Regions from separate parts of the Homo sapiens genome. Here all the other regions are reported to be linked to region 2. Evidence: microRNA targets listed by miRTarBase, many of them from high-throughput screens and not tested one by one. Region 2 holds a microRNA gene; each other region holds the end of a gene's coding sequence.

Region 1 (3,125 bases), not on the chromosome of region 2:
CAGATGTTAACCTCAATTTTTTAATCTAGAATGCAAAATATTAAAATAATACGCTTTTTTTTTACATAAAAGCTTCTATTTTTTAACTTTTCTTATTAGTAGTGATCAGCAAGATATTACCAACGGGAAGAAAACATCTCCCCAGGTAAAGTCATCTACCCATGAATCCCGCAAACACAAGAAGTCAAAGAAATCCCACAAAAAAAAGCAGAAAAAAAGGTCACACAAAAAACAGAAGAAAAGCAAAAAGGAAGCCACAGATATAACAGCAGATTCCTCGAGTGAGTTCTCAGAAGAAACTGGGGCTTCTGGTACAAGGAAAGGGAAACAACCACATAAACGCAAGAAAAAATCCAGGAAAAAGTCTCTCAAAAAACCTGCTTTATTCTTAGAGGCAGAAAGTAACACTTCACATTCAGATGATTCAGCATCCAGCAGTTCTGAGGAAAGTGAGGAAAGAGACACTAAGAAAACCAAAAGGAAAAAGAGAGAGAAAAAAGCCCATACCTCTGTAGCCAACAATGAAATACAGGAGAGGACAAACAAACGCACAAATTGGAAAGTAGCTACAGATGAAAGGTCTGCTGAGAGCTCAGAGGATGACTAAATGGGAAACACTTTTGTTTTCCACATGACTGTGGATATTTACAGTTCTTACTCCTTGTGGTTTTGCCAGTGACTCTTGTTCAGCACGGGGCCTGAGGTCAGAGCTGTCTTGTGCCATCTGTATGTTCTGACAGACGTCTTGTCTTCTATTTTGGCGTTAAGCTTGATCCCCTTTTCTTGTTAAAAGGGAATCTGGTATTTTGTTATGAAGGTTTCTTGAAGAGATTATTTTTTTTTGCAATTAATTACGTTTAGTGTAGAGTGCATATACAGCAAATTAAAGGACCCAGAAAGCTGGATCCAATAGTGACCTGGGTACACCAATCGGAATATTGAATTTGGGGAAGTCAAGGGCTGGGATCAAGAGGTGGATTGGAACTAATGCCATGTAGGATGGTATGACAAGGCAACACTGTATTGCTCTCTGTTTATATAGCAGGTGTCACAACTAACTTGTCTTTAGCCTTGGTGCTTTGATCCTTCTATATTTTGACCCCACAGGTGTGGTCCGGTTTACTTAATCAGGACATGGGCCTAAGAACAAACCTTTTCCCTTCATGATAACATCCATAGACAACTTATTAGAAGGGACTAGAGTTTTTGCAAATTTCCCTGCTGGATGGGGCCTATAGCTATACTTAGTATATGCCTAAACATGGTAATTGGATAGTAAATGGTTTTCTAGTTCCATTGCTGTATATTTGCCTAAATGGACTTGTGTTCAAATTATTTCTTCAATTGTCATAGATAATCCTGTACCAAATGGGGAAGAATTAGGAAATAATCATGTTGTCTAATGGTACTCTGGATTCAGGGCAGCAACTGCCATTTAAATGTTGTCTTGTTCATTTCTAAATCTGTTCATGAAGTTTAGGTTTTCCCTGAAACTAAGTTGAATTATTTCCAAAATGAAACAGGCTTCTCAGGGACATATCCACTTCTTCCCAGTCTGCCTTTGGATTAAAGCACCAAGCAGAGACCACATTAATTCCCTTTGCTATACTGTGATCCTTAGTATGTTAATTCTTAAGAAACCAACATATCACTGAAAGAAGGCTGGCAGAACGCAAGTGCATTTTTTCACTGTGGGAAGAAAGATCAAGTGACGTATTATTTTTTCCTGGTTGTCACTTAATGGGCTGAGTAAAAAGCTTGAAAACTCAGACTTTCGGTCTTGGTTCTGCCACTCATTGGTTATGAGGAGGCCCAGAGCAGGTAAGTTCACCTTCCTGGCCTTACTTTCCTGATGTGTAATACGGAATTACTTCACAGTAGCATGACAGTATAAGACACCAGCAGTAGATACAACTATGATGACATTCCATGAGTTGGTATTTTTAGTTCTAACTGCTAAATTTGTTCTCTTTACGGGACAGATTTCTAATAAAGTGCTTGGTCTTAAAATACATGGTTGGACAGAGGTGCCCTATCCCTTAACTATGAGCAGGTGCTACCTTTTGGGATATTTATTTTAAATTTTAATACTTTGGTACTCAATTGTCAGTGTTCCATGGTGTGTATTTTTATTTTTGGGATTAGTGGGGGTCTAAAGGGAGAAGAATAGTCTCTAATTACTACCTCTTAACCTAAAGCAATTATTTTGTTCCTGGAGCAAGTTAAATCTTTGTTGGAAGGAGCTTTGGCCATATATTTTTTAGCATGCATTGTTTCTGTGCCCTGAAAGTACCTGAAAGGTTTTAAGCACAGACTCAGGAAAATGTGCCAGTAGAACAGGCCATCTCCAGGAAATTGGCTCTATTTGGGTCCTGACCTTCCCTTCCTCCCAAGTTAGCAGGCTTGTTCTTTCGCAAGGAATACACATCTTGCCTTTTTTTTTTTTTTTTTGCCATGTTTTCCTTTTCTTGGTCATGTATAAGCAATAAAGCTGTTTTTTGTTCTTCATCTTTCTTAACCCCAAATTTTCTTCTATGCCTTAGGCTTCGATGGTTCTTCCAACCCCCTTAATATGGCTTAGGGTGGTTTTTCAAAACCTACAATCCCCCATTTGCACTACTGGCCATGGAACATTTATTTCTAGTGTTCCTGCCAATCAGAGATCTCTATATTAAATTCTAAAATGGGATTAAAAGAAGAGTTGGAGAATTCACACTTATTGAGTAACTGATGTCATACAACCTGGAATTTCTGAATTCCAAATAAATAAATTTCACTCTTTGAACATTTCATCTTTTACTTTTTAGCACCAACAGACTTGATAACAGCCTGATGCTGATCTGACAATGGGTTGATAGCCTTCCCCCACTGACCCTTAAATCTGCTTAGTAACAAGTCCTTTGCTTCTGTCATTCTCCTGGGGGATGGCCTACTGCCCTCCTTTCTGTACAATCTGGGCAAACCGACTGGTGATGGCAAGAGTGGTGTCAATGAAGCGGTCTACACAGCTGGAGAGACAATTTTCAGTGCGAGAGTCTAGGCGATTCCCTGGCTTCTCCACACATTTATCCCAACATAACTCCATGAAGTGATGCACCTAAAAGGAAAGAAAAATAGTAACCATT
Region 2 (3,125 bases):
GGGTATGATGACAGATGTCATGGGTGGTATTGTGGGTATATGATGGCAGGTGTGGTGGGATTATGATGTGAGTATGTGGTAAATGTAATGGGAGTATTATGGCGGTACAATGGCAGGTGTAATGGGAGTATGATGAAGGTATGATGACAGGTGTGATGAGAGTACAATGTGGGCATGATGCAGGTGTGATTCGAGTATGATGGGGGTGTGATGGTGGATATGAAGGCACTTGTGCTGGGGTTAGCTGGGAATCCTACCCCACATCCCCTCCAAAAAGTATGGCAGGCTGGGCTTCAGGAAATGGATCAGAACCATTCTCAAGGCCTATGATCCGAATGATTCTTTTACAAGACTTGCCGGTAGGCAAGAGGAAAGATCCCTGATGCTCTAGTGATACAATTTAAGGTACTTTCTAAGAATAGGAAATAAATAAAAGTTATGTTCAAACCTAAGCACAAAAACTCATGATAATGTTCCAAAATTGAATTCATACCCAGCATTATGACACCAGCATATCAACATGACAATTTTTACTGCAGTCCACCCTCCCTTATTCTTTCCAGCCCATGAGTCATATTGGGGTCACATTAATATCATGCTGATCTTAGCTCTTAAATTGCATAACCCAAAATCACCTCCTAAAATTTCTCCTCCAAGTATTGCTGGATGTAAGTGAGGTGTTTTATATGTGTTCACCAACATTCCACTTTTATATTTTTCCCCTCTTTGCCCATTAGTTAACATCCTTGCAGTCACAGCTACCGAGGGCAGTGCTTGACATTTTCACTCCTGCCTAGGCTCTGTGGAACAATGTTCCTATGCCTGTGCTTCTTTCAGAACACTAGCAGAACTAGCTGCACATGCAGTGAGAACTTTGCAGAATTCTGCTTGGCTTTGACATGTCACTTCATCTCACATACAATTGTGAGACACCCCTACCTAGCATTTAGTGAGGTTGCAGAAAACAGCAGCAATTGCTTTTGTTGCCATTGTGGCAGATTTCAGATCCTATCTAATGAATAGGAAGGTAAGGTTTCCAGGAGTCAATTTGTAAGAGAACTATTGGTTCCAAGAGACAGAGACAAGGGATTTTGTACACATTTTTAGGGAAAAAAATCAAAATGAGAAAGATACCTGCCCCCTTCCCATGGCAACCCTGCCACCTGATATTATGTGCAAAAAAAGCAGCATGGCATCTAATCTAGTGTTTCATAGGGCTTCTAGGGACAATAGCTCCACCCTCACAGGAGTTCAGATTCAACTGAAAGGCATGCAGGAGTTAGATTTATGAAGATTAAAAAGTCAGCTTTATAACTGATAAAATCTAGGCTGAATTGGACAGACTCACTCCATGAGAAATCCTGCTGGTCAACCATAGCCCTGGTCAGACTCTCCGGGGCTGTGATTGACCAGCAGGACTTCTCATGCACTGAGTCTTAGAGCCCTCTCCAAGCAAAAGGAGAGTAGAAGCGACTTACTCAACCATGGCATAGTTCTTCCCATGTCAGGAAAACCACTTACCTGGAGAGAAATAGGGTGTGGGCAAGGAGCTTTACCTTCTCCCAGGAGAAATTCCTGCAAAGGAAAGGAAATCCCGGCTACTCACCCTTGGAATCAAGTGGGGAACACATTCTCCCATTTCAGTGTTCCTTTCTGGGAAATGCACAATACCTTTCAAGGCCACAATCCACATCTGTTTGAGACTGGAGCCCTTATTTTTTGGCATTATGTTACACTTCCTCCCTGGAATCCCTGGTACATTACAAGTATCCAACAAATATTTACTAAAGTCAGAATAATTATTCTCACTATCATTATTCTTTCAGTCATAAATAAGTTGGAATTACTAAATATATCTTTTCTAAAATGGGTGTTAAATATATACAAGTAAGAATAGCTGAAAACACTTGCCACATTCTTCCTGCAACATATTTCAAAATGAAAGCCGATGTGGAAATTTCTTCAGCTCATGTGACCCACAAAGCAAGTATGCTAGAAAAATCCTCTGTCATCAATCATGATAGTAGGTCGGGTCTGGAACTGAAAGCTATTAAAAAAAAAAAAAAAAAAAAAAAAAAAAAAAGCTTGTCTGTGGTTTGGAGAGGTAACGTTAACCAGGTCAAATTCTCAAGAGTGCTTATTTTTAAAAAATAAATCTATACTGAATAAAGAAATTTGCACTTGATATCATTTCTTATTAGCCTGGGCATTTTCATCTTTAAAAATCAGTAACAGAATTTACAACATCTTTTAACAGTAGCTTGAGAAGTCACAGTAAAGTATAACATTAAAGTAGCCTGTAATGCTGGAAAAGCTCTCCTTAAATCTTGAAATCAATAGCTTCACTTAGGATGAATTCAGCTGAAGGTTATGGAGGACAAAATTCAAGTGGCTGAACCAATACAGGAACTTTACTTATTATCTTCTTTTTTTTTTTTTTTTTTTAGAGTCTACCAGTAAGGCCCTCACAGCGTTGGTTGATTCAGTAGCTCAAATACACCACCAGGGACTCAGTTCTTTCCACCCTTCTCTTTTGTCATTGCATTGGCTTTTGCACTCAGACTTGTCACTTCCTGGTCACAGTATGGCTACCACCTCCTGCTTAAAATATGGCTGCCACAATATGGCTACCACAGATCCAAGCATCACATCTTCACACGTGTCCAAAGAATGGAAGAAAGTAGGCCCTTTTCTCAGATTCCTTGCAAGAATGAGAAGAAGATAATTCCTTCTGTCTCATTGGCCAGAATTCTGTTGTCTGCCTTTCCGTAGGCCAACCACTGGATAGAATAATAGACTTCCCATGACTGACTAATGTTAATTAAGATTCATTATCTAGGGCTGTGAAGACATCAGCTCCCATGAAGCACAAGGTGGCAAAGGTTTGGACAAAACTGGTTGTAAGCTACCAAGGGAGGGAGAATGGAAATGGCTGCTGGAGAGGCAAAAAAAAAATTCTATCTGATGCATCAGCAATAACAAAATATCTTAATTTGAAAAGCTATCAGGAGATGCCTTCAGTGTCAGTGTGTTTATAAATACCTGTCAACATGGTTCTGATTGCAGCTGGTACATCTTTTACCTCAATCAATGTTGCCTTGGTATCAGGCAATAATAACAGAAGG
Region 3 (3,125 bases), not on the chromosome of region 2:
CACCTCAGAAGAGGACATCATGAAAACACATGGACACATAGAGGGGGAAAAAAAATACACTGGCGCCTACCAGAGGGAGGACGGTGGGAGGAGGGAGAGCATCAGGAAAAATAACTAATGGGTACTAGGCTGAAATACCTGGGCAATGAAATCATCTGTACAACGAACCCCCATGACACAAACTTACCGATGTAACAAACCTGCAGATGTACCCCTGAACTTAAAAAAAAAGAAAAGGACATCATGGGAGCCCAGGGCAAGAGATGGAACACCATCCTGGGAAGCCAGCATCCAGACAGGAGGCCTCTCTGGGGTGGCGCGAATGGGACAGAACACTTCCTTAGGATTGACACAGAACTAACACTGACCCACCGGCTTACTTTGGCCATTGTGCACATTCTTTGGCTCATTGTGACACCACCTGGTAGGCAGATCATAAAACTGTACCATGGGGTGGGCTACAGGTGGAGGAGACAGCGTTCTGCCTGCTTGGTGCAAGCAACCTCGCACAGGCAGCTAGGTGTGGTCTGCTCAAACTGGTTCTCAGAAGCCAAATCCTCCCCTCCTTTGTCTATTCACAAGAGTTAAGAAAAAGACTGCTTTCTCTGTTGATCTCAATAACAAAGGGGATGAGGCACTGCCTTGGCAAAGTCAAAATTGCAGTCACTTTCTGATTGTTAATGGAGAAAAGCAGGCGGCCTGCCAGGTGATGGAAAACACGCGGATCTTTCCTGTTTAACTTTGAAATGAATTATGTGATTGTTTTACAGAAGTAGTAACAGATTTGGCTTCCTTGTTGAGGCCACTGTTGAAAGTTGGTATTCTCCAAGCCTGCAACTGGGCAGAGTTTGTGTGTAATTAATAACTGAGAGTCCACTAAATGGGCACTCGGCCCTGTAAGCCATCACAGGTGAGCACGCTGGGGCAGTGATCATAAAGGTGACCCCTCTGAGATCAGGCTCTGGGCCAGAATGCATGAGAATCAGACAAAAAAAAAACAGAGGCAGAGTCCTCCTGCTAGGAAATCTAGAGCCTCCTTCTTTTTGGTCTTAAATTAACGTGGAACACAATTTTTAAATTTAAAATCACCCAGCACATCTAGTCAAGTAGTTCTCAGGTCTTCTTTTGTTAAAAGTTGCAGAGCCCATCATCCAAATGAATACTTAGTCAAGAAACCCTGGAAAGATGAACAAGAAACCAATAAAAATAATTACCTACCGGGGATTCAGGGGAGGAGAGGGCAGGGTGGAAGCAAGTTTTTTTTTGTTTTTTGTTTGTTTGTTTGTTTGTTTGTTTTGAGACAGAGTTCCGCTCTTATTGCCCAGGCTGGAGTGCGATGGCATGATCTTGGCTCACTGCAACCTCCGCCTCCCAGGTTCAAGCGATTCTCCTGCCTCAGCCTCCCAAGTAGCTGGGATTACAGGCATGTACCACCACACCCAGCTAATTTTGTATTTTTAGTAGAGACAGGGTTTCTCCATGTTGGTCAGGCTGGTCTCGAACTCCCAACCTCAGGTGATCCGCCTGCCTGGGCCTCCCAAAGTGCTGGGATTACAGGCGTGAGCCACTGCTCCCAGCCCAAGACTTCTTTTTTTATAGTTTTGACTTTTGAAGCATATACATTTCTTACCTCTTTAAAAAAGTAAGACCATTGGACGCCCCAAATGTGAAGCGGCTGAGAAGGGAGCTGCTCTGGCAGAAGGCGGTGGGAGAGGTGGAAGGGAGAGCCTAGCTACTCTGCCCTGTCCTCATCCCGGAGGCTCGGTTCCACTCCCACAGCTCTCAGCACTTGGACACCAATGGCCTGGCCCAATCCTTTGTTTTATAGATGGGGAAAAGGTGGCCCCCCTAGTTTGGTTCACTCTCTGGATCTCTCTTCCCATAGGACACATTCAGGAAGGGTTAGATACACTCCTCAGAAGACACAAAACACTCAATCCTTTTGAAAGATTTATTTTTAATTAAAAAATAAAAGTTATCTGAACATATCTGCATTGCAGTTTCAGGGATGGCACCTTAACCCATTTATGCCGAAGGTCACAAATGTTTTTTATGAAAAATCAGATCTTGGTGATGACCTTGAGCAGTAGGATAGAAATAACTCCCACAAGCTTAGGGTTCCAATAATGGAACCCTAGGCATGAATGGGTAAATGAAGCAAAAAACAAAACAAAACAAAAAAAAAACCAAAGCTTATCAGTTCTTGGGTCTTATGACCATCTTATAATGGGTACAAAGGCACACGTGTCTTCAAACAAACTTGATTCAGAAACATTTCTAACAACTCAGAACTACCCCCATGTTTTTGCCCACCCTCACCCCCCCAAAAAAATACAACCAAAAACATTAAATTCTTTTTTAAAACTACAGAAATAAGTGCTGAGTCAGCAAGGAACCTGGGCATGCTGCCCACATGCCGCCACGTCTCTCTGCTTTGATGACTGGCTGCCCAGAGGTCAGGAGGGAGAGAGCTAAGCACTTTCCACTGCATGCTAGGATATAGGGCTTGCAACATAGACCCAGCCCTACAGCCGTCACCCCAGCTGGGGCAGGCAGCTCCTAGGCGCTCTCTCCCTTAATCAAGGGCATCCACAGCTAAAGCAGCCTTTCAGGAGGTGACAGGCCCAAGACAAGCAAGTCTTTGTCAAATGCTTGCGATGACAAGGCCAATGGTAACTGTGGGAGGGAGGGAGACGGGTAGATCTCTTCGCCCGCAGTTTACTGGGCTGCTGGAAGGTTTTCTCTCCCTACTCTCCCTGCCTTCTCTCTTTTCCCTTCTCCCCAGTCTCCCTCTTCCCTCAAAAGGGTTTTACTTTAGCTTAATGGTGGGGGTTCCGAAGAGGGTATTGGCAACTCCTGGGGCGGGTCTGGTGGCTCTGCCATCTCTAAGGGGACATCACGTGCTTTCGGTTCCTGTGCTTCACAGAGCTCCTCCTGCCCCTGAGAGGGCTCCAGCTGCTCCTGACCCTGGGCCTGGCTGTTCATCTTCTCTTCAGCTTCAATCTCTTCTGATGTGGGGATGGAGTTCTTCTTGGGGCGACCTTTGGGTTTTGTGGGTGCTTCCTGTCCACCTTTAAGAACCTACGTGAGTAAAAAATTGTTATTGAATCTAAGAAATAATTCCT
Region 4 (3,000 bases), not on the chromosome of region 2:
CAGGCTCTCTGGGCCAAGCAGTGGGGAGGGGCTGGGGTCGCTGGATGCCCTAGCCCTGATCCCGCCATACGCGTTTATTTCGGCCCCCAGGACTAAATGGAAGCGACAGACGGCCGTCGGGTTGGAGCTGCTGGCGGAGGCAGGCAATTACTCAGCGCTCCAGCGGATGTTCCCGTCGCCTTATTTCTACCCGCAGAGTCTGGTTTCCAACCTGGACCCCGGCGCGGCGCTCTACCTGTACCGCGGCCCCAGCGCGCCGCCGCCTGCTCTCCAGAGACCTCTGGTGCCCCGCATCCTCATCCACGGACTCCAGGGCGCCAGCGAGCCGCCCCCGCCGCTGCCCCCCCTGGCCGGCGTCCTCCCACGCGCCGCGCAGCCTCGGTGAGGCGCCCGTCGGCTCCGGGGCCTCCTCCCGCGGGCTCGGCGTGGCCCCTTCCGCCCGCCTTTCTGAGGGCGCAGGTTCGACGCCCTTTCCCGGGAGGGGGCCCTGCCCGGCCCTCCCTGGCGCCCCAGCCCAGTGCCCCCCGAAGGGCCAAATGCCAAGTCCACTGAGGCCCGGACCCCGGACTGCGTCTCCCCAGCCCCCCTCGGCGTCCTCTCTCGCGGCCGCTCTGTCCGGGAGCCATCCCCACCCGCCGGGTGTACATACGCGTCTCTGCCACTCCCCACCCCCAGCCTCTGCCGGCTCCCCTAGGCAACCCCTTTCTCCCCAGGAGCGGGTGCGGCTGATTCCCAGGCTTCGCTCTCTCCCACGCCCCTTCTACGCTCCAGGTGGAGAACAGCCCCTCTCCCCGCGCCCCCGCCAGGGAGAGAAGGGGAGTGCGGAGCCCCGTCTCCCTACCCCTCGAGCACCTGGGCCAGCGGCTGAGCTGTACATACCGTGTGCAAAGTGTATATGAAGTTATTTATTCGTGACCCATGAGCCCGTGACCGTGTCCGTGGATTAGTGAGTCTGTGGCCTGTGCCCTCCCCACTCCCAGGCGGGGCAGGAAGGGGCCAAGGGGGCTTGCCCACCCACCCCGACCCCAGCCCCCAGCCTCAGCCCCGGTCCGGGGGCAGCCAGGCCTCTCGGGTTCTCTCTTTTTTAAATGTCGAAATAAACTTCTTACAAATGACCAGGCGCCTGTCCGCGCTCGCGTCGCTGGGTCCGCACTCAACCCCTCTCCCATCCCTCTCCTGGGGACTCGGTTTCCTTCCATCCTCAATAACGAAACATTTTTGTCCCCCTTCTCTTCCCCGGTGCTGTGGACATGCGCGGGGGCCCCGACGGGACTCGCTGGGGCCCGGGTCTCCCCTCCCTGGCCTCAGTCTTCCCATCTCTACAGCGAGGCCAGCTCGTTGTTCCCCTCCTCCTCCTCTGTCTCCATCTGGTTCCTAGCGGCTCCCAGACGGTCCCGAGGGCCGGGGCGGGGGTCCGTGCCGGAACAGGCGGGGGTCAGCGCGGGGCCTCGGTCGGCTGCGGGCCGGGCTGCGGGGCCCTCGCCGAGCCGACTCATCTGGCCGCGACAAGGGCCCCGGCAGCTGGTGACCGGCCCGCCGGGCGCGGGCCGACAGATGGGCTCCGAGGCTGCTCCCCCCATCACTCCCACCCTCCGCCCAGCGTCCGGCCGCGCTCGGGCTCCCGACGCTCGCGGGCGCCAAGGCGGCCCGGGCCTCCCGGCCTCCCGCACCAGGCAGGACTCCGCGCGCCTTCGCTGCGAACCAGACGCCACATCGGGTAAACCCCCACTCCCACATCTTCTCACCTCCCCTTTACCCCGGGAGGAGGTTGGAAATGAGACCCAGAGGGGAGCCAAATCCCAGCGTCTGCCCCATCTCTTCTGGCTGCCCCAGACCGCAGCTCTAGCATCTCAGGGGAGAGGGGTTTAAGTCCCGAGTCAGACTCGAGGCTTCCAGTTCACGTCCAAAGGGCCACGGTCACCTGAGACTGCTCCCTCTCTGGGGAGGTGGGCGCAGGTGCTCCCTTCCCACACACCACCTGCAGCTCGCTAACCCTCAGCGCTGGGAAGTTTTGGGGGCCGGCAAGCCGTGGCCCCTCTAGTTTGGGGGCAGGGTTTCTCTGAAGACGGGGGCTGTGTTCAGACTATAACCCCTCTCGAAAACCATACCCACAGCCAGGTCCGCTACTGTTTCCTCCCTGCCCCGAAACACCCTCGCACAGCAGCTTTCTTTCCTGGGATGGCGAGGGTATTATTCTAATTTTGCAAAATGCACAGCAGCTAATTAAGTCAAGGAGCCCCTCGGCTTTCGAGTTCTTTTGCATGTGAATGGGGGTTGGTAAATCCCCAGCTCTGGCTCTGGTGGGGGGTGAGGAGAGACTGTCCCCAACTCAGGGTTAATGAAGTGGGAAAGGAGTCTCTCATAGCCTCCTGCAAACAAAACCCCCCATGCAACAAACCCTGCCCAAATCCTACATGGATTGACTTAAACCCAGGGGATAAGTGCTTTAAATTAATCTCATTGAATAAGAATGAGACCAAACAAAACTCTTTAAAATCATATTAAAAATCTATCAAAGGACAACTTGCACTGGTGTGCTTTTCATTTTGTGAAAGTGAAGGAGATAGACCGTAGCAACCACCCTCACATTTACACAGTGGCAGCGCAAACCACAGACACATTCTCAACTATGTAATTGTCCTTGTACCTCAGAGGCGATTTCATATCCTACATTAATGAAGAACAAGGCTTCCCTACAAGTTTATAATTAGAATATTTTAAATTGTCCTGCACATCCCATCTGTAATAATAACTTCACAACCTTTGCAGTGAGGTGGGCTCCTGCCTTCCATCCACTTAGAAGGCTAAATTGGTTTCTGTTCCCAACCCTGAGGTTGGGCGAGCTCTCGTGTAAGAAAAAAAGAATGAATGTGGGACCCCAACAGGCCTGACAATAGGAGAGGGCTGAGAAGCCATCTTCCCCCGCTCTGCCACTGACCCATCCCCCCTCATAAACGCCGACTCAACAGGGAGGGGGCAACAAAGTTGAAAAGAAGTTTA

What was found. Region 2 holds the annotated microRNA hsa-miR-4675 (GGGGCUGUGAUUGACCAGCAGG, at 1,396-1,417, shown strand). A microRNA usually pairs through its seed, bases 2 to 8, with sites in the 3' UTR of a target mRNA and lowers its output. Matches are read on the target gene's strand: a 7mer-m8 pairs with bases 2 to 8, a 7mer-A1 pairs with bases 2 to 7 and ends in A, and an 8mer does both.
Region 1: the mRNA of TIMM8B is a reported target of hsa-miR-4675. The part of its 3' UTR that is shown has no 7-base or 8-base seed match.
Region 3: miRTarBase lists BARX2 as a target of hsa-miR-4675. Seed matches in the 3' UTR shown: 7mer-A1 at 2,723-2,729.
Region 4: miRTarBase lists BARHL1 as a target of hsa-miR-4675. Seed matches in the 3' UTR shown: 7mer-A1 at 511-517 and 7mer-m8 at 779-785.

The regions. Positions count from the first base shown.
Region 1 is chr11:112,082,366-112,085,490 of GRCh38, forward strand. It overlaps TIMM8B (translocase of inner mitochondrial membrane 8 homolog B), which reads right to left. Exons shown (of 2, transcript NM_012459.4): 2 at 2,435-3,097. The coding sequence ends at 2,930. NKAPD1 (NKAP domain containing 1) reads left to right here. Exons shown (of 6, transcript NM_018195.4): 6 at 100-2,785. The coding sequence ends at 607. Among named protein-coding and RNA genes, the nearest start is that of TIMM8B, 2.8 kb to the right of the region's middle.
Region 2 is chr10:20,550,620-20,553,744 of GRCh38, forward strand. It overlaps MIR4675 (microRNA 4675), which reads left to right and starts at 1,351; the gene lies at 1,351-1,427.
Region 3 is chr11:129,451,092-129,454,216 of GRCh38, reverse strand. BARX2 (BARX homeobox 2) reads right to left here. Exons shown (of 4, transcript NM_003658.5): 4 at 1,938-3,081. The coding sequence ends at 2,815. Among named protein-coding and RNA genes, the nearest start is that of BARX2, 77 kb to the right of the region's middle. RefSeq lists an enhancer at 399-900.
Region 4 is chr9:132,589,138-132,592,137 of GRCh38, forward strand. BARHL1 (BarH like homeobox 1) reads left to right here. Exons shown (of 3, transcript NM_020064.4): 3 at 91-1,115. The coding sequence ends at 385. Among named protein-coding and RNA genes, the nearest start is that of BARHL1, 8.0 kb to the left of the region's middle.